Homo sapiens: one gene and its partners. The protein of the gene in region 1 purifies or fractionates together with the protein of each later gene. This does not show direct contact. Each region holds a gene or a part of one and is shown in the gene's direction. Other genes may lie near its edges.

Region 1 (5,930 bases):
ACAAAAAGGATTATTGGCTAATTGGCTCTGGAGATAAGAAGCAGGGACTAATTACATTAGTCTACATTATAAATGCTCTCCTGGGCTTTGGAAACTGTTTTGTTCACATTTGTCTTCCGTTTCTTAATTTTTCCTTGTTCTTGGATTTTCCATGATCTTTTCCCTCATTTCCTCCCAGGCTTGACAGTGCTGCTTTTCTCTCTGTGTTGGTATTCCTCCTCCACTACCATTATGTAGCAGGAGGAGTGTTCCCAGTATGTAAGGGAATTTCTGGAACAAATTGTTGACAACAGCTGCTACACATTTTACCAGAAAGGCCAGCAGGGTGTACTCCTCAGGAAAACTTGGAAAATATTTGTTTATCCTATGTAGGCTAAGAACTCACCTGAACTAAAATGAAAATCCAGGTTTAAGATTGCTTTTCAAGTGTATTATTGAATAAATGCCTATTCAGACAATATCTATTCATTGCAAAATGTGTAGAGTTTAAATAGCCTTCCTTAGGTAGGTGTCAGTACAGTGGTTACATGTCAGTTTACTATTATAATTATGAGCATTATCATTACTCTGTGCCTTTGGCTGTTTGGCTAGGAAATGGTGAGCTTCTAACCCATTGTAAGTCCCATTAGTATCTTGTGAGACTTTTTTTTTTTTTTTTTTTTTTTTTTTTTTTGAGACAGAGTTTCACTCTGTTTCCCAGGCTGGGCTCGCTGCAACCTCCACCTCCCAGGTTCCAGCGGTTCTCCTACCTCAGCCTCTTGAATAGCTGGGATTACAGGTGCATGCCACCACGCCCAGCTAATTTTTTGGTTTTTGTTTTGAGACGGACTCTCGCTTTGTTGCCCAGGCTGGAGTGCAGTGGTGCAATCTCGGCTCACTGCAACCTCCGCCTCCTGGGTTCAAGCAATTCTCCTGCCTCAGCCTCCTGAGTAGCTGGGACTACAGGCACACGCCACCACACCCGGCTAATTTTTGTATTTTTAGTAGAGACGGGGTTTCACCATATTGGCCAGACTGGTCTCAAACTCCTGACCTTGTGATCCGCCTGCCTCGGCCTCCCAAAGTGCTGGGATTACAGGCGTGAGCCACTGCACCCAGCCAATTTTTTGTATTTTTAGTAGAGACGGGGTTTCACCATGTTGGTCAGGCTGGTCTCGAGCTCCTGACCTCAAGTGATCACCCATCTAGGTCTCCCAGAGTGCTAGGATTACAGGCATGAGCCATCGCGCCTGGCCCAAGACATATTTTTTGGTTGTAATTTATTTCAACATATTAATATGGAAAGAAACTTAATCAGTAGTTTGGGGTACTCCTACACCCCCTCTTCCAGAAAGGCAGGATGGTTCATTTTGCTGTAGGCTTTCTAGACTATTGTCCTAAAACGTAAGACTTCCACCCATTCCCTTTGAGATTTTATTTCTTCACTCTTAAATTCCTCTCCTGTCATATACATCTTCTCATTGATTTTTATAGCTTTCAAATAGAGTTTCATGTCAAACTTGGTCATCATACAGCCACACAATGCATTAGTGTATTATTAATTGCTTGAAACTCTCTCGTTGTCCATAAATCATTTTAGTGGTAGTTGTAGATCTAAAATTTCTCCTATTTACTTCAGAACACTATTGCTTAAGTCTGAGTGCAGCAAGCTAGGTAAAGCCTGACAAGAATTCCCTAGGAGCCCACTGTTGATCCAGGGTTCAGAAGCCCTCTGGCTATAGCTCTGAGCATACCAGACTTGGGCTGCTTTTGAGTTACTGACATACACCAAACCTGTTAGCCATGGCTGTACCATAGACAACTTTTTTCCCTCTGGAAGCACATTGTTGAAAGACATTTTTCAGTTATTGTTTTTTTTCTGTTCAAAGTCTCAATATATGTGTAGTAGAATTACTTATCTGTTTCCCCCACCTGGATTAGCAGTACTTTTAGAGCTGATCTAAGAGAGAATGCTGAATCATATTGAATTATGGTGGCCATGGGATATTACTAAGCTTCTGCAATTTTGAAAATATTGGCCACATAATATTGTTATTTTCTTATCCTAGCCACTCATCCATTATATTTGATGGTGTTTATCTGAGACAACTAAATATTTTCACAAGTAAAATTTTCCAGAACACAGCAGATGTTTGTATATATCTAAATATATAATTTCTACTACATTTCTTATTTGTTAGTGTTAGAAAAAAAATCAAGACCAACAAATACTGCGAATTTGAGTGAAACAACCATTGTGTCCAAAAACATATTGAATCTCCCATGTTTAGGCCCTCTTTTAAAGTAACTTTCTCTCTTTACTCTCTACAGGCTGACACATTAAAAGAGAGATATCAAAAAATTGGTGACACCAAAAGGAATACTCCCATTGAAGCTCTCTGTGAGAACTTTCCAGGTGGGATGCTAAAAAGACATTCCAGTGTGACTGAGCTTTGAAACTAGGTAGAGTCCATGACTGGGTATCTCTAGATAGGGGTGCTGTTTAGGTAATTAACATTTCCTTTTGTGATACAGACCAAAGTAGGTTTTATCACTTTTATTTTGTCAGTAAAGAAAACATCAGTGTCAAATTGTCTGTATAAATAACCCCTTTGTGGCCCAATGCTTCCCCACAACTGCTATGGAAAGCATTCAGCTAATGAGCAGGGCCTTTCATCTCTTTCCTAACAGAGGAGATGGCAACCTACCTTCGATATGTCAGGCGACTGGACTTCTTTGAAAAACCTGATTATGAGTATTTACGGACCCTCTTCACAGACCTCTTTGAAAAGAAAGGCTACACCTTTGACTATGCCTATGATTGGGTTGGGAGACCTATTGTAAGTATCCTTTTTTTTTTTTTTTTTTAACCTCATTACCTCCTTTCTCCAACCAGCACTGCCTCATGCCTTTACTTGCCAGTCTTTCTGCTTGAATCTTTGGTAAAAATATTCCTTTGATCGTAGACTGTATATTTACTAGCCTTGTCTGGGTGTTGCCATAGGTTGCTCTTACTAGTTCAGAAGTAGGAAGTATTTTTTCCTAGTAATATAGGAAGATAATAACTTGTGTGTCCTAAGATAACAGAATTTAAGCCCAGTTTTTAGGAGAAGTTTCATTTGAATGATTCAGAAGTTTGTTTGTTTGTTTGTTTGTTTTCCCAGGCTGGAGTGCAATGGCGCCAATCTCGGCTCACTGCAACCTCCGCCTCCTGAGTTCAAGCGATTCTCCTGCCTCAGCCTCCCAAGTAGCTAGGATTGTAGGCACACACCACCACGCCCGGCTAATTTTTATATTTTTAGCAGAGACGGGGTTTTGCCATGTTGGCCAGGCTGATCTCAAACTCCTGACCTGAGGTGATCTGCCCTCCTTGGCCTCCGAAAGTGCTGGGATTACAGGCGTGAGCCACCACACCTGGCCCCATGATTCAGAAGTTGATGCCACATACGCTGTTAATGTACTTGACCTTTGTAGCAGTGGAACCCAGCATCATAGGAAGCTTTTGAATTTGTTGTTCTGGTCAGGGGTTCACAGGGCCAAACAGATATCAGTGGAGGAAATTTTTTTTTTTTTTTTTTTTTTTTTTACGGAGTTTCACTCTTGTTGCCCAGGCTGGAGTGCAATGGTGTGAACTCAGCTCACCGCAACCTCCGCCTCCCAGGTTCAAGCGATTCTCCTGCCTCAGCATCCCGAGTAGCTGGGATCACAGGCACGCGCTGCCACACCTGACTAATTTTGTATTTTTAGTAGAGATGGGATTTCTCCATGTTGCTCAGTCTGGTCTCGAACTCCTGACCTCAGGTGATCCACTCACCTCGGCCTCCCAAAGTGCTGAGATTACAGGCACGAGCCACCGCGCCCGGCCCTGGTTTTTTGTTTTCGAAGGTAAGCTACTCTCCAATGAACTATTAAGGACCAGGCTGCCTCCCTTTTGCAGATGAGCAAACTGAGAAGACAAGACAACTTGAAAGTGCTCTTGGTAGCTGAAAATAATTACTACTACTCTATTAGAATTAGAATCATTCTGTCCTTTGCATATGCATCAAGTTGGACCTGTTTCCCCCATTTGACTTTTTGTTTCATTTTTCTAGCCTACTCCAGTAGGGTCAGTTCACGTAGATTCTGGTGCATCTGCAATAACTCGAGAAAGCCACACACATAGGGATCGGCCATCACAACAGCAGCCTCTTCGAAATCAGGTATGTGTTGATCCTCCATTCTTTCAGACACTACCCTTCTTCTTGGCTAATATTAAAACCCAAATTCTTCAGCTTCTCCGCTTTAGTGTATGTACTGAAAATAAAGATCAAATGCTTGCCATTTCTTACAGGTGTGGTATGACTTTCAAGCAACCCTCAGGGCATGTATAGTTGCACTGAGATGTGGCCAGGTGCCCTATATGAAGCATCCAGTCTAAAGAGTCAGCCTGGCCAAGTGCAGTGGCTCATGCCTGTAATCCAAGCACTTTGGGAGGCCAAGGCAGGTAGATCACTTGAGCCAGGAGTTCAAGACCAGCCTGGGCAAGATGGTGAAACCCTGTCTCTACATAAAATACAAAAAATTAGTTGGGCATGGTGGCACGTGCCTATAGTCCCAGCTACTTTGGAGGCTGAGGTGGGAGAATCACCTGAGCCCGGGAAGTCAAGGCAGCAGAGAGCCAAGATTGCTTCCGCATTTGCACTCCAGCCTGAGTGATAGAGTGAGACCCTGTCTTAAAAAAAAAAAAAAAAAAGTGTGTGGGCCTGTCAGAGTCTGTTGGCTGTTGGGGGGAACTAGCTATAAGTTAGGATCAGAGGCATCTACCATAGGACCAAAAGACCTGTTGGAGGCTACTCTGGGCACAGTGCCTGTGGAGTAGCCCTACTCGCCAAGGAGCAGTTTAAAAAAAAAAAGACCTGTCGCACAGACAGGATGTACCAGGTAGCCCACTTTGGGTCTCATCTGTAGTCTGGTCTAGAGCTCTTGCCAGTTCTGGTTTTTCCTTGCTGGTTAAGAATGGTAGGTACTTTGGACTTCCAACTGACTTGGGCATGAAATGGAACCTCCACACCACCCCTTGTTCTTCTACCCGGGCAAATTATAGAGCTGGTCAAGATTTGAGATGGACCTGCAGTGAAGACTCAGCTTAGGCGATGTCATCTGTCCTTCATTGTTCGTTGTTTGGAAAACTAGTGGTCTCAGTGAGGGACATCTCTCAGCCTAAAGACAGATAAGGCAAACACACACCAAAAAATCAACAAGTTTGACATTTTTAAAAAGGGCTTATGTATTTGGGAAGTAAATATGACATAGGATTTTTATCTTTATATTAAATATATTGCTAAGAGAAAAACAGAGACCACAGTAGGTAAATAAGCAAAGCATAATAAACAGATTACATATTTTTAAAATAATTATCACATATCAAATTAGCTTATTTCCTCTCCTTATGATTTCACTTTCTTGTATTAACATTTTTACAAGAAAATACAAAAACATTTATTTCATAGATGCACATGTGCAAGTATATAGGTTAAGAATAGTATATAAACACACACACACACACACACACACACACACACACACACACACACATGTCCAATGGAGTACACCCACAAATATATTTTCTCACCAGTAAGTATATACTCTTGGCAAAATATGTGGTTTGGTGGGTAAGAAAAAAGTATGTAAAAGGAGGAAAGCCATTTACTAGAGAGTACATATAAACGAGAAAATAGGTGGGCAAAAAAGAAAGGGTTAAGCAAACTCTGGGCACTAATTGGGTCCATAGTCACATCCTTTAAAGTCGTTGTTTAAGATTTATAATTTGACTGACTTCTGGTTTGACAACAAAAGACTGTTGACTTCTGCAGTTCTCTCCCATCCCTCCCTTTTTAAAAGCTAATAGCTAGTGCAGGTGAGGGCACAGTTAAACTGACATATTGCTGTTGATTTTACGAATTGTACAAATT
Region 2 (5,930 bases), on another chromosome or scaffold:
CGGCCTTTATGGCAGAATTACATTATTCAGCTGTAGCCTCTCCAAAAGGTTGAGTCAGCCTGGGTTTGCTGCTGGCGCCACGGAGCCCTAAGACTTTGCTGAGCCCTCACATAGCGCCGGGGAGGCACACCTACTGTCCACCTGCTCCCATGAGTCATAAAACTGCCACACTGCTACCAGGCCTGCCAGCCCTGCGTTTTCCTTCAGTTGCCACCCTGATGAGAATGAACTTAGCCATATAGGTCAGGGCACCAGGCAACACTTTTCCCCCAGCCTGCCTTCCTCTTGAAATGTGCTATTGGACAACCAGTTTGTAAAGCAAGGGCCAGGATGTTTCTGTTTCCATTGCTTTACACCAGGTGGCTAAGGAGAGAGGGCAGCAGGGCAGCCTAGAGGCCAACAGCTCAGGCTAGAGAGGAGAATCAATCCACGAACATATGATGGAGTAATAGGATTAGCAAGTGCCCAGACCATCACGATGAGACCAGGGAGAGGTCAAAGGAGGGAATAATAACGTTTTATTAATTATTTCAGACTGTAGGCTACTCATATATCCCACCTGACATTTACAGTGGATCTATCACGGAGAGTCTCCACTGAAAGTTTTCACTCTTTCATGAATAAAGACTTCCTTATGTGCCTAACACTTTCAAAACGATTCCACATCATGATAGTGTCTAAAAATAAGCACCCTTTATTCAAAGTTCTCTAGAGGAGCTCTCTTCTCATTTTCTGTTGCCAAGTCTTTGATCAGCCTAATAGTTGGGGGCAAGAGCCCAAAAGAAATGAAATCAAACCTTCTGTGAAAGTAGGTAGCAGTAATATTAAACTGACATGTAATATGCCTCCCATAGCAAATGCTCACTTTTGCCACAGGTCCCCTAAGTGCTACAAGTGTTTGCGTATTTGTTTCCTCTTAGGAAATCCTAGAAAAGTCTAGTTTTGTGTTATATGTTGGGGTGCATCGATTAAACTGCTAGTGCTGGGTTTCTGCAAACTAAAGATTTATGTAGGTGCTCAAATGGATGACAAACTTAGATACCTAGGTCACCACTCGAATTTCTAAGGGGTGTTTTAGTAACTGCCTCCAAGAAGCTGTGATGACTAGGAAAATCCATCTATTTCCCTTTAAGTAGAACATATTATTATGAATGTTTAAATAACTTAAAGATGCCTGTTACTTGTCTTTAAAAAAAATTCTCCTCAGATTTCAGGTAAAAACAATAATTGAAGATGTCCAGCAAAACAGCAAGCACCAACAATATAGCCCAGGCAAGGAGAACTGTGCAGCAGTTAAGATTAGAAGCCTCCATTGAAAGAATAAAGGTAAGAAGCCCCGACTGGATAACATATGCTTTCTGCTCAGTTCCCCCTGTTCCTTGTGGCTGGACCACTTGTCAGAGAAGATAATACCATTTCATTCCGCTTGCTTCCAGGATTTTTCCAGAACAGGCTGAGAGTCTCAAAATCCTAACTTTCATTTTCCTATATAGCATGGGCCTCACTTCAAAAGTGTCTGCATTAGCCTCTCTGTTTGTAAAACTCTGGACAGGATTTCCTAAGGACCTGTCTCCCCTGAATGAACATGGTCAAGTCCGTTGATCCCTGTGTTCTAAAGTGGGACAGGGGTTCCAAGTAGACTTCATAAACACCCTAGTCATTCCTTTGGAATTTAAGTGTTCTAGAATTATCAGTGCAGCTGAGGCAGCTTCACGTAAGAAGTCAGCAGTCTAGGTTTCCTTTTTAGGGAAATGAAGCTTTTAAATGTGTTTGGCCCTCAGTGACCACTTTCTGTGCCCAGAGTAATAATGCGAGCTTTAGTTGAGATCCCATAGAGAAACTGGAATGCATTTCTTAGATCACCTGACTTCGAAGTCTTTTCCCCTAAATCCCAAGAGAGAACTAGGCAGTGAGTGCCCTGGAATGTTATGACTAGTTCTTCCTTGAAACTGAAGCAGTTGGCCAGGCGCGGTGGCTCACGCCTGTAATCCCAGCACTTTGGGAGGCCGAGGCGGGCAGATCACCTGAGGTTGGGAATTCGAGACCAGCCTGACCAACATGGAGAAACCCCTGTCTCTACTAAAAATACAAAATTAGCCAGGCACGGTGGCGTGCGCACGCCTATAATCCCAGCTACTCGGAAGGCTGAGGCAGGAGAATTGCTTGAATCTAGGAGGCAGAGGTTGCAGTGAACCAAGATCGCGCCATTGCACTCCAGCCTGGGCAACAAGAACAAAACTTCATCTCAAAAAAAAAAAAAAAAGAAAGAAAAGAAAAAAGAAACTGAAGCAATCACTTGATCCATTCCTCTGGGCCTGGAGATAGTCACCTGTCTTCCCAGCATGAGGCTATCTGGGCTGTGCTAGACAGGGCTCAGCTGCCCCATTGCTCTTTGCTTAGGGCAAAGAGATCCTATTCTGTAGGATCTCCCTCCCAGACTTCTGAAACAGGGCATGATATTTTCCGTGTTTAATTCATGCGGGAGTAAGGTACTGCCTCTTCCCATGCTGGTTTCGTCTCTCTTTTTACTTCCGCAAGCCCAATCTCTAACAGTAAATCCTGAAGCTCCACAACTTGGCTCCAGAGTTTTGGCTCCGAGCCCATCGTTCAGTTCTTAAAGTGTGTTCTGCATTCCAATCTGTTTTTTTCTGGGTAGAATTTAAGATACAACCTTCCCTTGATTCACATATGCTTTTTCTCACCTGGCCCCTAACTTTTTATTTTGAGACATTTCAAACCTGCTGAAGAGTTGTAACAACAAACATTTATAAACCGTTTACCAGGATTCACCAGTTTTTAACATTTGACCACATGTACTTGCTTGCACTGTCTCTCTCCCTCCTTCTGTCTGTACACACATACACACAAAACATATATAATGTCTTCTTTAAACCCTTGAAAGTTATTTGCAGTTCAGGATTATCTAATAAGAATACCTCACACACAGTCCATTTTTGAAGAATCCAGGCCACTTATTTTGCAGAATCACCCTCACTTCGGGTGTGATCGTTCGCTGATTGGACTCCAGTTCAATGTTGGACAGGAATGCTAGCTCATTAGCTGGCGGTGTGTCCTCAGCACTCCCATGAAGGGATACATGGTGCCAGTTTGTCTGACCATTGTTAAGTTGCTTGGTTAAGAAAGACCTTACCTGCCAAATTGCACCATTTTAAAGGTACCATTTCCTTTTTATACCTGACAAGAATCTGAGAGTGATGCTTTGAGACTCTGATTATCTTGTTCAAATCAGTCTTCCATTCAATAGCCTAGCATTCAAATACGCTCTGAAAGTGTGCAAGTAAAATATTTTCTTTCTTGTTTGTTTGATTTATCTCCATGTCAGGTTTCGAAGGCATCAGCGGACCTCATGTCCTACTGTGAGGAACATGCCAGGAGTGACCCTTTGCTGATAGGAATACCAACTTCAGAAAACCCTTTCAAGGATAAAAAAACTTGCATCATCTTATAGTGGAATAGAGAAACAGCTCCTCGCCTCTTCCCAACAACGCAAATTATGAGCAGCTCCTTGAAGAGATTTACCTTCAGCTTATTTGGTAACCACTGCTAATAACTAAAATGTTCTCAGCTTGGAATAATGGACTCTGAAGTCTCTATTTTCCAAGTTGTCCTTTCTCTTAAAATACCCTTTACTGATTTAATACAGAATAACAATCTTATTTTCCACTTGGTAACTATGGCTTTATGTTGGGTTACTGTTTAAGGAAAGTTGATCTGGGCCTTTTTAAAAACATAATTATATACTTTAGAAATACAAGGGATTCCGATATGTCAGGACCTAAATGGCCTAAGCACCTGTCAAATTAAAATTCCAAAATTCATTGAAATCCTAAAGCCTTGATATTATATTCTTTATAAGGCGTGTGCCAGCCTGTATAGTATATAAGAGAGAGGGGTGTTTGTGTGTATATATATATGCCTTTGTGTATACACTTATCAAAGCTATTTTCTTATGAAAACGTCCCTCTCTCCATACCATCAGTTTCTCAGTTCCAGAAGTTATACCTTTATTTTGAGCTGTGTATAGGTAGAATAAAAAATTCCTTTCATATCGTTATTGTACAAAAAGTAAAGAGTATCCTAAAGATTGTATTCATTGTAATCAAGTAATGCAATCATCTCTCCTCTCTTGAAATCTTGCTGGACCTCTTAGGCTACAATAAACTGTACCAAACTAAACTGACAGTCCTTCGATAATATGAAACATTAATTTACAAGGACCCGTTAGGGCTTCAATGATGCTGAGTCTGGAAAAGGGGAGGAGACCCTTGGGAGGACTCCAGGCAGCTGTGCTCCCAGGGCTCATGTTCTCTACTGGATTAGGGATAGGCACCTCTGAAATCTCCACCCTGATGATTGGAATGAAACGGAGTGAACATGAGCCCAGCTGAGAGAGGAGCAGGAATGTGTGAAAAACAGCTGCTCTCCTTGTCCCAGCTTTGTGATTGAGCCCTCTGTCTTGCTCTCTCTGCCTTCCCTGTGTCTTTCTTCTCTTACCAGAGCATCTGTTTGCAGAGGTAACATTACCTTCCCCAGCCACAGGTATGTGGAATACGGTGAGGAAAAAAAAAATTAAAAAAAAAATGCAAGCTGTCAGGATGCTTAAGCTCTTTTCAGACATCTGCAGTTTCATCCCTACCTTGTTCACATACCATCCAAGAGGCACATAGGCTACCCAAGAGAGCCTTGGATTCAGTGGTACACTCCTTGGGCCCAAGGGCTTTAGCAGCTGGATATGGGGTTCCTTGATTTTCCTCTGGGCCCAAATATAGCCCTCACACTCTTGGAATTTCCAGGTATGGGGGTAGCCCCAAAAGGAGGAATCTCCTATGGCCAATAAGGTATCTTGACTTTATCAAAGTAGAAGAGAGGGTCACTTCGGAGTCAAATCATACACTAGGCCTTTGATGCTTTAATTCTTCTTCAGTTCATTAAAAGTAACTACTAAGGAAAGGTTAAAAACTTCCCCTCAAAAAGGAATCAACCCCAGGAAGTAATTATTTACAACGATTTTCCCAAATTTTGTACAATCTGTCCTGGAAAGCAAACCCCTTTTAAAATCTAATGTCTGGGCTTTGAGTATTAGCTCATTTAGGGTGGACAAATGCATTACTGTTTTCAAACTGCTCACATTTATTCAGTATTTCTCCAAGTTGCTATCTACTCAGCCTTATGAATGCCCCTCGCTTTTCTAAGGCCATGTGAAAATCACGGCACTGCCCTTAGCCTTGTGTCATCTGCTTTTTCGTTCTGCGATATGCCCAGTTCCCAAATCAATTATAGGTACCTGTTTAGGAGAGAGGAAGATTTTACCTCTCAAAGGGTGAGATTTGAAATTTACACTAAAAAGACAACTTTACATTTAATGCTTCACTTAATGAGACATTCTTTTTTTTATAAGTCTATTTTTCTACTCAGTTTCAGAACACTAATCTGATTTTCACTCTGATTTTTAACGTTTCTTTAAATATTTATAATGTAGCTTCTTTCAAAATATTTTCATGAAAAATTACTTTTATTATACCATTATGTGCATGTTATTGGTAGCAGGCATAGTTTATTATTTAGTACTGAAACATGCTCTTTTACCTAACAGTAAACAAGTATGTTTTGATATATATCTGTTAATATGCTTATAGTGGTAAGAAATGGACTTGAGGTCCCAGGAGATTTCATTTTATTCACCCTGGTCAGATACAATAAAGGCTATGAGTATAAATACATAACTTCCTAACCAGGTGTAGGGCATGTTCATGAATATCAAATCTTTTGATGCTGGACCCAAGAGAGGAAAAGTTGTAGCTAAATGTTGATTTACTTATAACTAGACGTCTATGTGAGAAAATATATGTATACATATATATGATATGCAGAAGTCACTTTTTTTATCAGGCTTTATTCTCCTTACAAAG
Region 3 (5,930 bases), on another chromosome or scaffold:
ACAACAGAACATAAGACTGCTCTTCTCCACCAGTGCTTATTGTATAACTAAGTTATTCCCCAAAAGTTTAACCCAACTTTAAGGGACACTAAATCAAATGCCATAGGACAGACTGCAGAGCAACTTAAAAACTTGAGTTAGTGGTTAGTGGGCTCAAGAGAATCACCCTTAATTTTATGTCTTGGGTATGTTGCAGGAATAAGAAAGGTCCAATTTAAGTGTGACATGCAGTAAAGAGAGGGGCTTTTAGGATGGTTTTGCAAAATTAAAAACATTCAAAACAAATGCCTGTAATAAGAACATATTTAAAGAGAAGAAAAGTAAGCTTGAAAGAGCTGTAGATGTTAGAGGTTTCCAATTCATGCAGAATTCAAAATTAATTTTATGTTTGTTTTATGACAGATATGTAAAATTAGAAGATAGAGATAATTGGATCTCTGTGGATTCTGTCACATCTGAAATTAAACTTGCAAAACTTCCTGATTTTGAATCTAGATATGTTCAAAATGGCACATACACTGTAAAGATTGTGGCCATATCAGAAGGTAAGTTATTAAATAGATCTTTTTCTTGATTATATGTATTTAGATTTTTATTTTCCAACATCAGAAACCATTGATTTGATTGTGTATAAAAACCTAATCTCGGCCGGGAGCAGTGGCTCATGCCTGTAATCCCAGCACTTTGGGAGGCCAAGGCAGGTGGATCACGAGGTCAAGAGATCGAGACCATTCTGGCCAACATGGTGAAACCCCGTCTCTACTAAAAATACAAAAATTAGCTGGGCATGGTGGCATGCATCTGTAGTCCCAGCTACTCAAGAGACTGAGGCAGGAGAATTGCTTGAACCCAGGAGGTAGAGGAGCGGAGATCGCGCCAGACAAAGGGAGACTCCAACTCAAAAAAAAAAAAACAAAAACAAAAACCTAATCTCACCCCAGCACAGTTGCTTGTGTCTGTAGTCCCAGCTACTCAGGCAACTGAGATGGTTGGAACACTTGAGCCCAGGAGTTTGAGACCAGCCTGGACAAAAAAGCAAGACACCATCTTCAAAAAAAAATTGAGGGGTAGATAAAATTTAAAAATAGATGTCTAAAAAAATTTTTTAGTAAGATGAAATAAGCACCTAATTTCTCCAGTAGATAAATCTCACATTTCTACTTGGTAAGTGGATTAAAAGATATTACTTGGTCCAAATTTGAAACATATCTAGGATAGAAAATGTCCTAAGTGGTTAGTACCTTCTCCACTCCAAATTGGCAAGGGAATTCAAACTATGTCTGTTGTCAGCAATAGGAACAGAATGTACATACTTTTTCTCTCTTATTTTTAAGATTATCCTAGAAAAACCATCACTGGCACAGTCCTTATCAATGTTGAAGACATCAACGACAACTGTCCCACACTGATAGAGCCTGTGCAGACAATCTGTCACGATGCAGAGTATGTGAATGTTACTGCAGAGGACCTGGATGGACACCCAAACAGTGGCCCTTTCAGTTTCTCCGTCATTGACAAACCACCTGGCATGGCAGAAAAATGGAAAATAGCACGCCAAGAAAGTAAGCAAAATCACTGGACTACATAGAAATCTAAATATTAAGCATGATATCTAAAATATTTGTAAGTTGTATTTCTTCTCATAAATTATATTTCCAATATAGTTTTTTAAAGGAGTTTATGAAATGAGGTCCTGAACCTACTGACATATAGTATCTTTTATATGCTTATGGAGAGAAGAAAAATAATCTAAAATGTCTTGAAGGTAGCTGGGTATTCCCTAAATAGCCCTTGAAGTAGTTTTGTCTGGTAAGGTGAGGAGTACCAAGCCTTTGTCAGCACCACAATCGTAGTAGTTTGCCTTCTAAAAATCTTGTAGTAACAGTAATTCCATTTAAAACAACATTTATTGAGCACTTGCTATGTGCTAGGCATTCTGCTAGCCCACCCTATGTATTACCATATTTAATCCTTCCTTCAACATTATTCCCTGATTAAAGCTGAGGATACCTTGGTTTAACTGGGGGTAAGTAAAGCTCAAACCTAGAACATGATAGAAACAACATAACAGGGGAGTTATCTGATTCCCCCCTTCCCCATGTCAGTGGACATGTCCATATGTCCACATCCAGGACATCTAGACACATGGACCATATGATGTGTTGATGTGAGTTTTCAGATGTCCTTCAGGGTGGTTCTGAATGCAGAAAAGTCTATCCAGAAAACTATTTTGTTTTAAACAACTAGGGTTCATTTCAGTAAAATTTCAAAGACAATAGTCAGTTTTTTTTTTAATTTACAGCTTTATTGTGTTAAGTCTAGCAAATGTTTGAAATCATTTTAAGAGGGTTTGAATAATGTTTAGTCCAATTAACAAATTAAACACCATCAATATTTCAAACTGTATTTACAGATTTAATATATTTAGTTTCCTTATATATTTCAGTGATCTGAATTAACAAAACCTCCCAGCCAGGTGCGGTGGCTCACGCCTGTAATCCCAGCACTTTGGGAGGCCAAGGCAGGCGGATCATGAGGTCAGGAGATCGAGACCATCCTGGCTAACACGGTGAAACCCCGTCTCTACTAAAAATACAAAAAATTAGCCGGGCGTGGTGGCAGGCACCTGTAGTCCCAGCTACTCGGGAGGCTGAGGCAGGAGAATGGCATGAACCCAGAAGGCAGAGCTTGCAGTGAGCCGAGATTGTGCCACTGCACTCCAGCCTGGGTGACAGAGCAAGACTCTGTCTCAAAAAAAAAACTCCCTATGATCCTTATACTCTAAAATTCTAATAAATTTAACTTACAAATACACTGAGTTGTATATTACAGAATATTATCAATAACAAGTTGAAGCCGGGCATGGTAGCTCATGCCTTAATCCTAGCACTTTGGGAGGGTGAGGCGGGTGGATCACTTGAGGTCAGGAGTTTGAGACCAGCCTGGCCAACATGGTGAAACTCCATCTCTACTATAAATACAAAAATTAGCTGGGCATGGTGGTGGGCACCTGTAATCCCAGCTACTCAGGAGGCTGAGGCAGGTGAACCTGGGAGGCAGAGGTTGCAGTGAGCCAAGATGGCAGCACAGCACTCCAGCCTGGGCAACAGAACGAGACTCCATTTCAAAAAATAAGAAGAAGAAGAAGAAGTGTAAGAGTGCTAATGTTCCTTGATCTTAGAAGGTGCATGCTGAAGAATGTCGTGCTATCTGTAACTTACCTTGAAATAGTTAAGAAACTTTAAAAAAAAGAAAAAGTGGGTATATAGAGGGCAAAGAAAGCATTGTTGCAAAATGTAAACAGTTAGTAAGGGTTTGTTAATATTCACTAAAATATTCTTTCAACTTTTCTGTAGGTTTGAATTTTTTTTCCATTTTGAATGTATATAGTGTTGAGAACAAAAAAAGAAGGGACTAGAGAAAACAAGATCAGCCCATCATTGAAAATGATTAACGCTGAGGATGGGTACCATGGGGGTTATGCTCTTCTCTTTATTACTATGTTTGAAAAATTGCCTTAATGAAGTTTTTTTTTAAAGAAATGGTAAAATAAAGGTCATTCAGTAGAAATGTTAACTCACCACTTGTTTGTCACTGTATTCCCAGTGTATAGAACAGTTCCTAGCTTTCCTAGACCCACACACATTGGTTACAGCTAATCATCATGAAAGTAGGTGTCCAGGTCTGAACCTTTGCTATTTAAACTGCATATTCAGGGCCTATAGACAAATTTTAATGAGCACACTTCAATAAGTGAAGGAAGAACAAAGTACCTAATTGGAGTTAAATACAATCAGCAATGAAAGAACATTTGTGGAATTTAATGTTGCCTCATCCTTGGTAATCGTTCGTTTTTATTTCCTTCTGCCTCCCAACCTTGTAGGTACCAGTGTGCTGCTGCAACAAAGTGAGAAAAAGCTTGGGAGAAGTGAAATTCAGTTCCTGATTTCAGACAATCAGGGTTTTAGTTGTCCTGAAAAGCAGGTCCTTACACTCACAGTTTGTGAGTGTCTGCATGGCAGCGGCTGCAGGGAAGCACAGCATGACTCCTATGTGGGCCTGGGACCCGCAGCAATTGCGCTCATGATTTTGGCCTTTCTGCTCCTGCTATGTAAGTCTTTAAAAGCCACTCTGTTGTGCTTTTGGGAATCTGAGTGCACTCCTGGAGATGTGTTACTATGGTAGTCATTGATTTCTTCACAGTTATTCTTTAACCACACTAGAGCACTTTGAGGGTGAATAGGGAAACAACTGATGATTGGCAAATCACCAAAGCATAATATAAGACTCTTCAGAATTTTGTTTTATAAATGTATATCCTTTTCTGGTTTCAGTAACTTAGGAACTATTGGCATAAACTTCACTGGTATTCCCATTTTGATGAGCTCTGTGAGGGCAGCATGCTGTCTGTTCTCTTCACTGCTGTATTCCCAGTGTGTGGAACAGAGCCTTGCATGTAGTAAGCGCTCAAAAAAGATGTGTTGCATGACTTTGGGTTATGGGCACAAGGTTTTTTACAAACCCAGTTTATTCCAATCAATCCTGCTTTGTACATTCAACTTATCAGAGCTCCGCCTCCCTGATATTCCCCGCTTGCCTTGTTTCTTCGTCAGCACCAAAAGTAGGCAGACCCTCTGAGCACTTCCTGTCCTTCCTGACCGTAAGATGTTCTCAACCAGTCCTGCCTGCCCTACCCACGCTCCAAAGACCTCGGGTTTCCTTTTATAAAAGAACAAGGGACTGCATCCTGAGGTCACATGAAATATCACTCTACTTGACCACTGAATATGGACAGAGGGCCGCCTCCAAGGCAGCCTAGGCTAGTGCAGTGACAGAGGAGAGGTCTGTTAGACAAGGGGTCCCCAACCCCCAGGCTACAGACCAGCACCTGTCCATGGCCTGTTAGGAACCAGGCCGCACAGCAGGAGGTGAGTGGTGGAAGAGTGAGTGAAGCTTCATCTGTATTTACAGCCACTCCCCATCACTCGTGTTACCACCTGAGCTCTACCTCCTGTTAGACCAGTGCTGGCATTCGATTCTTATAGGAGCTCAAACTCTATCGTGAACTACTCATGCCAAGAGATCCAGGTTGCGTGCTCCTTATGAGAATCTAATGCCTGATGACCTGTCACTGTCTCCCATCACCCCCAGATGGGACCATCTAGTTGCAGAAAAATAAGTTCAGGGCTCCCACTGATTCTACATTATGGTGAGTTGTATAATTATTTCATTATATATTACAATGTAATAATAATAGAAATAAAGTACACAATAAATGTAATGCACTTGAGTCATCCCAAAACCAACCCCCCTACCCCTAACTTCCCTGTGGAAAAACTGTCTTCCATGAAACCAGTCCCTGGTGTCAAAAAGGTTGGGGACTGCTGTATTAGAGCCATTGGTAGATGTGCAATTGAAAGCACAGCACTCAACAGTCTGCAGTGTACTTTTATACCATCATCTCCATGCTATGGCTACATATACAGATACATAACGGTAAATGACTTGTCTCAGCTTACCAAGTTTGTAGGTAGGTACTGGAGCTGGGACTGTATCTTTTGCTCAGGGATTCCTTGCACTGCTTTCTCATCTCAGATTCCCTGGAGCCTAATGTGGTACTTGGCACATAATAGACACTTGATGAATGTTTGTTAAAATTGTTGAATTGCCACTGGCTGATTTCAGTCTTCTTATTAATCGTAGTAGCTGTAGTTAATGTGCTGTTGACTGTTTGACATAAAAACGAATCTAGGCAGTAGCCAGTTCATCATTGGAAGCTGCCAAATGGGAGTGGCAGATGGGCATGCAGGTGTGTTTAATTCTTTACTACATTGATCAAGGGGTCAGCCTTGGTCTTTGCTTCCTCCTAGGGGTAAAATAAAATCTAAGAAGAGGGCTCTGAAATTGTTATATGTTTCACTTTATTATTT
Region 4 (5,930 bases), on another chromosome or scaffold:
GGAACTCTGCTTCGTAGTAAAGCCTGTGTGATGTATGAGCCTATCTTTCCCATCTTTAGCTCTGTGTGATTACTCTGGCTTTTGTACGAGCAAGCCCTTGGAGATTTTAGACTACTTTATTGGAGAAAGTACTTGAATTAGCAATTGGCTAGCTTTTGACATTACTGAGCAGAACCCCAGGATTCTGATAAACAGTCCTCAAATTCGAATTTAATCTCAGAATTTTGGCAGTGATAGAAGTCTACCAAGAAAACTTGTTAGCTTGCTGAAAAACACAATTGAGCTAAACTCAAATGCTAAATAAATTTCAGCATGAAAAAATAGGGATGCTTATTTAAAAAGGAAAATACCGTACATTTTAGGAAAATGGGCTGCTGGTTCCATTTATTTCAATTCCATAAAACTACATTGAATGCTTATAGTCTAAAAATGGCCTATTCTCAGCTCTGAGGAGTTACAAATTCAGAAATACCTCCATCTCTGCTCTCCCTGAGTTCACAGTGGAGGAGAATAGAAGGGGCATGGACAAAATTATTAATCTAAGGCAGAATATGATGGATAATATGAGATCCATTCCCATAAAGTAGGGAAAGAGGAATTCTAAGAGGGTGGGAGGGGGATAACAGATAGTTTCAAAGAGGTCAGCTGGGGGCTGGGTTTGAAGAATGGATAGAATATTTGACAGGTAAAAAGGGATTTTTTTTTGACAGGAGGAAAGTGATTCCCTTAAGGAAGACCTTGTGAGTCAAGGGTGGTGAAGTACAAAGCAAGTTCTGAGAATATGAAATAGTCTGATTGGGCTGGTCTTTTAGTGTAATAGAGAAGCTGATCATTAGAGGAAAATATGGCCCAGAAGGTAGGTTGGGCAGACCATTGAGGGTCCTGAGTTCCAGAGTAATTAGTTTGGACCTGGTTCTATAGGCAATTGGTAGCTATTGAAGGATTTTAATCAGATGGGCTTGGGGAGGTATAAGAATGGAATTGGAAACAGGAAAATGAGCCAGGAAGCGTTGGTATTATCTAAGAATCTGTGGCAGCAGTCCAAAAGAGGTGCAACAGGGGCCTTAACTAGAGCTGTGGCAGTGAGATGGGAAGAAAGGTTGGGATCGATATGAAAATAATGTGGAAGAAATGAAAGGACTGGGTCATCATTTAGAAATAAAGAAGAAAGTCAAGGCGTTAATCTAGATAAAAGGGACCAAGGTAATCCCTTTAATCAAAGTAGGGACCACAAGAGGAGTGTGTTAAGTTTATGCATCGATTTTGGATTTGAGGTGCTTCTTAGGATATCTATATAGAAATATCTAGTAGGTCAATGAAAATGTATGAGCTCATGGCTAGATATGATTGAAATTGTAAGGATAGGGTTCACTGTGGGGGGACAGTATAGAGTCAAAATAACTGAATACAGAAACATAACAAAATTCTACAAGGCAGGGATAGGAGCATTCAGAGACAAGGAGCAATCTGAGAGGCAGGGGAGAACCAGGGGCATGTGGAGGTATAGAATCCTTAGCACCAGAGAGCTTAAGGGCATGATGGGCAAATGGAAAGATCAAGCTGAGTCAGGGGAAGCCTTCTGATGGCTATTTCCATGGAAGGGTGGCAGCAGAAGCCAAGGAGCACTGAGCTGAGTAGTAGTGTGAGATGGGGATTGAAGGCAGAAAATACACACAACTATTTGAGAAATGTGGCAATGAAAAGAAAGCCAGACATGGGGAAAAGTGAGAGTTCAGGATACCAGAATTAAGAAAAGTTGTTTTTGTTGTTGTTACTTAATGGTAAGACCTAAGTAGATGTGTGGACAGAGAAAGGAACAGTAAAAGAGGGAGAGGTGGAAGATTTCTGAAGAAAAATAATCAACTGAATCGAATGAGATGCATACTCCTGTTAGAAAACTGGGGCTGAGGGGACAATAAAATTTTTAAAAGAACAATTTAAACAAGGAGTAGTAGAGTGCAAAGAGCACTGGACTCAGACTTTTGATTTCCAAGTTCTGATCTTAGCTTTGCTACTTACTATCTCTGTGACCTTGGGCAGTCACTGCTTCTCTCTGGGACCCCGTTTCCTGATCTATAAAATTATCTTTAAGGTCCTTCCTAGCAGTGACAATGGCATGTCACCTACTTCTCAATGTTAACTTTTCTCTTCCCTGACTTTCTTTCAGGTATCGTAGTGAAAAGATGACCCTGAGCTATGCTGAATACCTTGCTCATCGCCAGCATCATCATTTCCAAAATGGCATTGGGCATCCCCTTCCGCCATACAACCATTATTCCTGACACTGAGCCGCACAACCAGTCACTGGGCCTCTCTGCAGACCTCTTCCCAGGAGACCCTACACCTTCTTGGTCTAGCTATCTCTTTTACTGTACCATTTTATGATGATAGTTTCCGTTGCCATGGTGAAGCTTCGACATCGTCAACTAAGATCATCATGGTAACGGGTAGAAAAATGGCATTTGTTAAGATCCTGTTTTATTATTTTAGATCGTTGATTTTTTTTTTGCAGCATATATAATTTTGGGTTTTTTTTTCCTTATAATATTATGTAGAATTTTGCTTTGCTGTCTCAGTCAGGTTTCTGTTTTTCTGTCCTCCTTGCCTTTCTTCCCGTTTTGCTTCCTGTTTTCCTTCTTCCTTCCCGTTTTCCTTCTTCCTTCCCTGCCTCCCTTCCTTTGACTGTGGATGGAAGAAAGTGTGCAGTTTTTAGGGATTTTACTTAGGTTCGTCTTTAGTTTTCCTCAGTAAGATAGTTGTTTTTTGATACCTGAGTTTGGGATTAATTCATATCAAATTCAGGTATTTGTATATTACTCTTGATTTTTGTCTGAAATTCACTTTGCTATGACAGCCTAGTAGTTGGGTCTTCACTCCTTAAGTATATGTTTTTCCCATGGTGAAAATACATGAACTTTAGTTCTAGTAGTGAGCATTCAAAGGTCCGTGATAGGGCTTGTCACAGAGAGAGAGAAATCATTTATCCCTATTGTGCTGGTTATCATAGAAGAGACTGCCTCACCACTTTATAGAACCAATTTGCAAACTAAAACACTGTTTGGAGAAGGTACAAACTACCTTTCAAAAAGGCTACAGGAAACATTTTATGAGCAGCAAATATTAGGAAGAGAGCAGATACAGAATTTAGTGCCTTTGAGAAGAATATAATTAAGTGGAATTAAGAGGGGTTAGAAAAAAGGCAATTTAGAAAAATATTCTTGTAAAACTTTATTGTTTCTATATGTGAAACAGAAGATTAGACAAATTCCTTACTCTTAAGTATTTTTTTAAGCTGAAAAAAAATTATTTTGAGCAAATAACCAATAAGAGACATTTGTCTATTTTATATTAATTTAAATTTGTTAGCTCTAGGTTTCAATAAGTCATGATTGGCTAGAATCCATTTTAGCTACCATCTAAAGATATGGTAAAGATAATTTAGTAAAACAAAAGTTCATATTTGCCATGATTTCAGATATGTTTGTCATGGGGACAATATTAGAGTTTTAGAGATACTATAAAATAGCTTGAATTTCTTTCTGCACTACATACTTTTGATAGAAACACATTTACTACATTGATAAGATGTTATGTCACACCTGTGAAAATGGAGTTGGCATTCAGATATGCTATAGTTAGAGCCCAGCTCATCTGCAAGTATAGTCTTCCCATGATGCATACAAAGATAACTTACTGATGTCGATAGGAGGTCCATACATATATCCCCAGGAAAAATGACAGATTATTCTGGAGGAAGATGACCTTCATTTTATGGTTATGTGTGTGTGTCTGTGTGTCTTTGGAAAAATATATATAATTTTTTCAAATAGGAAGCCAACATATCAAGTGATGAATTAAAGTATGCTGCAGAATATATATTCTAAAACTACAAAAAAGTCACTGAATATCAAAATGATACAGCTTATACATATAGTTACTGTGACAAGTGACAGACTGCTAGTTCAGAATTCAAAAATCCTTTCCTAGTTTGTGAGATAATGGGCTAAATTCCTTCTGCCTGCCACTGGGGCAAAGCAAATTGCTTTAGTTTTTGATGAGAGTTCTTAGAAGTTTGTTGGTATTCCTTCATCCACAGCATCCATTGTTGAAATAACCATTTTCAGTTGTGATGCCTTAACTAAGAAGCCAATTGTTAGCCTGAAATGCAATCTTGGTAGCCAGTTTCAATGAAGCTAGAGATTAGTCAGAAAAAGTTAGCTGTTGGGCTTTAGAAAGGGATTTTGAGTCCTGTCATTTCTACTTGGGAGCATTTTGGAGCAGATTAGTCTTTCAGTATAAAAACAAGTGGCTACCTGATGGAAACTTTTCTTACCCTTATAGGGAAACTGAGCACAAGCTGAATGATATTGTCTGCTGCAAAAAAAAACAAACAAAAAAAAAACAAAACAAAAAACAAAAAAAAGGAAAAAAAGGTAAATAAAACAAGCAAACTGAAGAGAGACAAAATAGACCAATATTATCGTGAAATCCATCTTATCCATCATCTCATCGGTTCAACAGGCTCCTCGTCCTGGGTGAGCTTATGGTTAGAAGTTTTTTTAGCAAAGATTTATTACATACATAGATGTGTGTGTGTACATATACTTACACATACATACATACATATATGTGTGTTTATTTAACGGTGCTAATCAATCTTGAGCAGGTCACGTGACTGGTCATGCGGACTCTAAAATCATATCAGATTTTTTAAAATCCTTGATATATGCAGATGTTATACAGATTTTCTTAGCAGTGTAATAACGTTAAACTGAAGAAATAACCATCCTGCAGGCTTCAAAGGACGAGGTCAGCAATATTTCCCAACATGGCTTGGGGGAAAAGGATAGTTTTGTCTCCTTTTGTATTCAAGTAATGCAAAGTGCATTTTTGTCTCTAAGTAGCTTTTGACTAAAAGACTTTGTAGTGTAAAGGGTGTTATACAAACTGTAATGGTGTGCTTCAAACAAATGCTAGACCCTTTCACCTTTGTCGTATATACAAAGCTGTTAATTATGTGGTATGAATTAACTTTGAACATGTTGAAATATGTAGCATGTCTTTAACTCAGACGAAGATTCTGATTGCACAGGTTGTGTTCTAGCCAGTTGTGATTTATTTGTTCAGAAACACAAATGTGAATTGCACTCTTATCATCAGAATATTGTATGAGTTCAGTGATCTTTAAACAGCTCAGAAGTAATACTTGAACTTCATTTGAGTAGCACAAAGTTTACATAGCCCCTTTTAAATGTTAATTCGTTCCATTTAAGTTTTCCATTTTCAGATGCAACTGGGTATTTTTCCTCTTGGAAATAGTACGTACTTTGCTTTGGTATGTAGCAAAAGGCTTCCATTTCTGGAAGGGTTTTCTTGTTCTTAAACAAGGTCAGCCAGGTACCAGATTCTAAAAGAACAAATTGTCCCCCACCCCTCAAGTGGCCTTCTGACTGCACGAGAATGTGCTACTACCCTCTGTAGTCTCCCCTAACACGAGAGGTCAGTGAAATTGATGGAGGAAGTGCAAGGCTTGCTTCCCCTCACCCTTAAAGCTTAAAGCAGTTGTAAGATTTTCAGTCCAGCACATACAGTCCCAGTGCCCAGCACACCGGAAGTTTGTATACTGGCCTCTTATCTTGTCTTCAAATGTGCAGGAAATTTGAAACTGTCATCTGGAATAGGTTCCATCTCTTATGTGTGTTAGATCAAACCAAAGAAGCCCCCAGCCATGCCCAAATGCTGCTTCAAAAGCCTGCCTTCCAGTCCTTACAAAAACCTTGCAGGATTAAATGTGTTAACTTTTTTATTTTTGTACAGTTTCTAAGTGATTTTTGCTAGTGATGTTAAAATGAATTAAGTTTATTTGAGGGGTGTGAGCACCTCCTCCATTTAAATAAACTGGTGACTTTCCTTTTATTTTTTAAAAGTGG

What was found.
Region 2: the proteins of CSNK1G1 (region 1) and GNG12 purify together in Homo sapiens (affinity purification with mass spectrometry; one large-scale study listed by BioGRID and IntAct). This does not show direct contact.
Region 3: the proteins of CSNK1G1 (region 1) and DSG2 purify together in Homo sapiens (affinity purification with mass spectrometry; one large-scale study listed by BioGRID and IntAct). This does not show direct contact.
Region 4: the proteins of CSNK1G1 (region 1) and AMMECR1 purify together in Homo sapiens (co-immunoprecipitation; one study listed by IntAct). This does not show direct contact.

Annotation. Positions count from the first base shown.
Region 1 is NC_000015.10:64,201,330-64,207,259, reverse strand, and holds part of CSNK1G1 (casein kinase I isoform gamma-1), read left to right. Parts: intron 1-2,310; coding exon 2,311-2,395; intron 2,396-2,670; coding exon 2,671-2,819; intron 2,820-4,070; coding exon 4,071-4,178; intron 4,179-5,930.
Region 2 is NC_000001.11:67,702,990-67,708,919, reverse strand, and holds part of GNG12 (guanine nucleotide-binding protein G(I)/G(S)/G(O) subunit gamma-12), read left to right. Parts: intron 1-1,207; 5' UTR 1,208-1,233; coding exon 1,234-1,326; intron 1,327-3,343; coding exon 3,344-3,469; 3' UTR 3,470-5,930. UniProt on the Homo sapiens protein: Guanine nucleotide-binding proteins (G proteins) are involved as a modulator or transducer in various transmembrane signaling systems.
Region 3 is NC_000018.10:31,534,868-31,540,797, forward strand, and holds part of DSG2 (desmoglein-2 preproprotein), read left to right. Parts: intron 1-402; coding exon 403-545; intron 546-1,334; coding exon 1,335-1,562; intron 1,563-3,883; coding exon 3,884-4,111; intron 4,112-5,930.
Region 4 is NC_000023.11:110,194,872-110,200,801, reverse strand, and holds part of AMMECR1 (nuclear protein AMMECR1), read left to right. Parts: intron 1-2,167; coding exon 2,168-2,282; 3' UTR 2,283-5,930.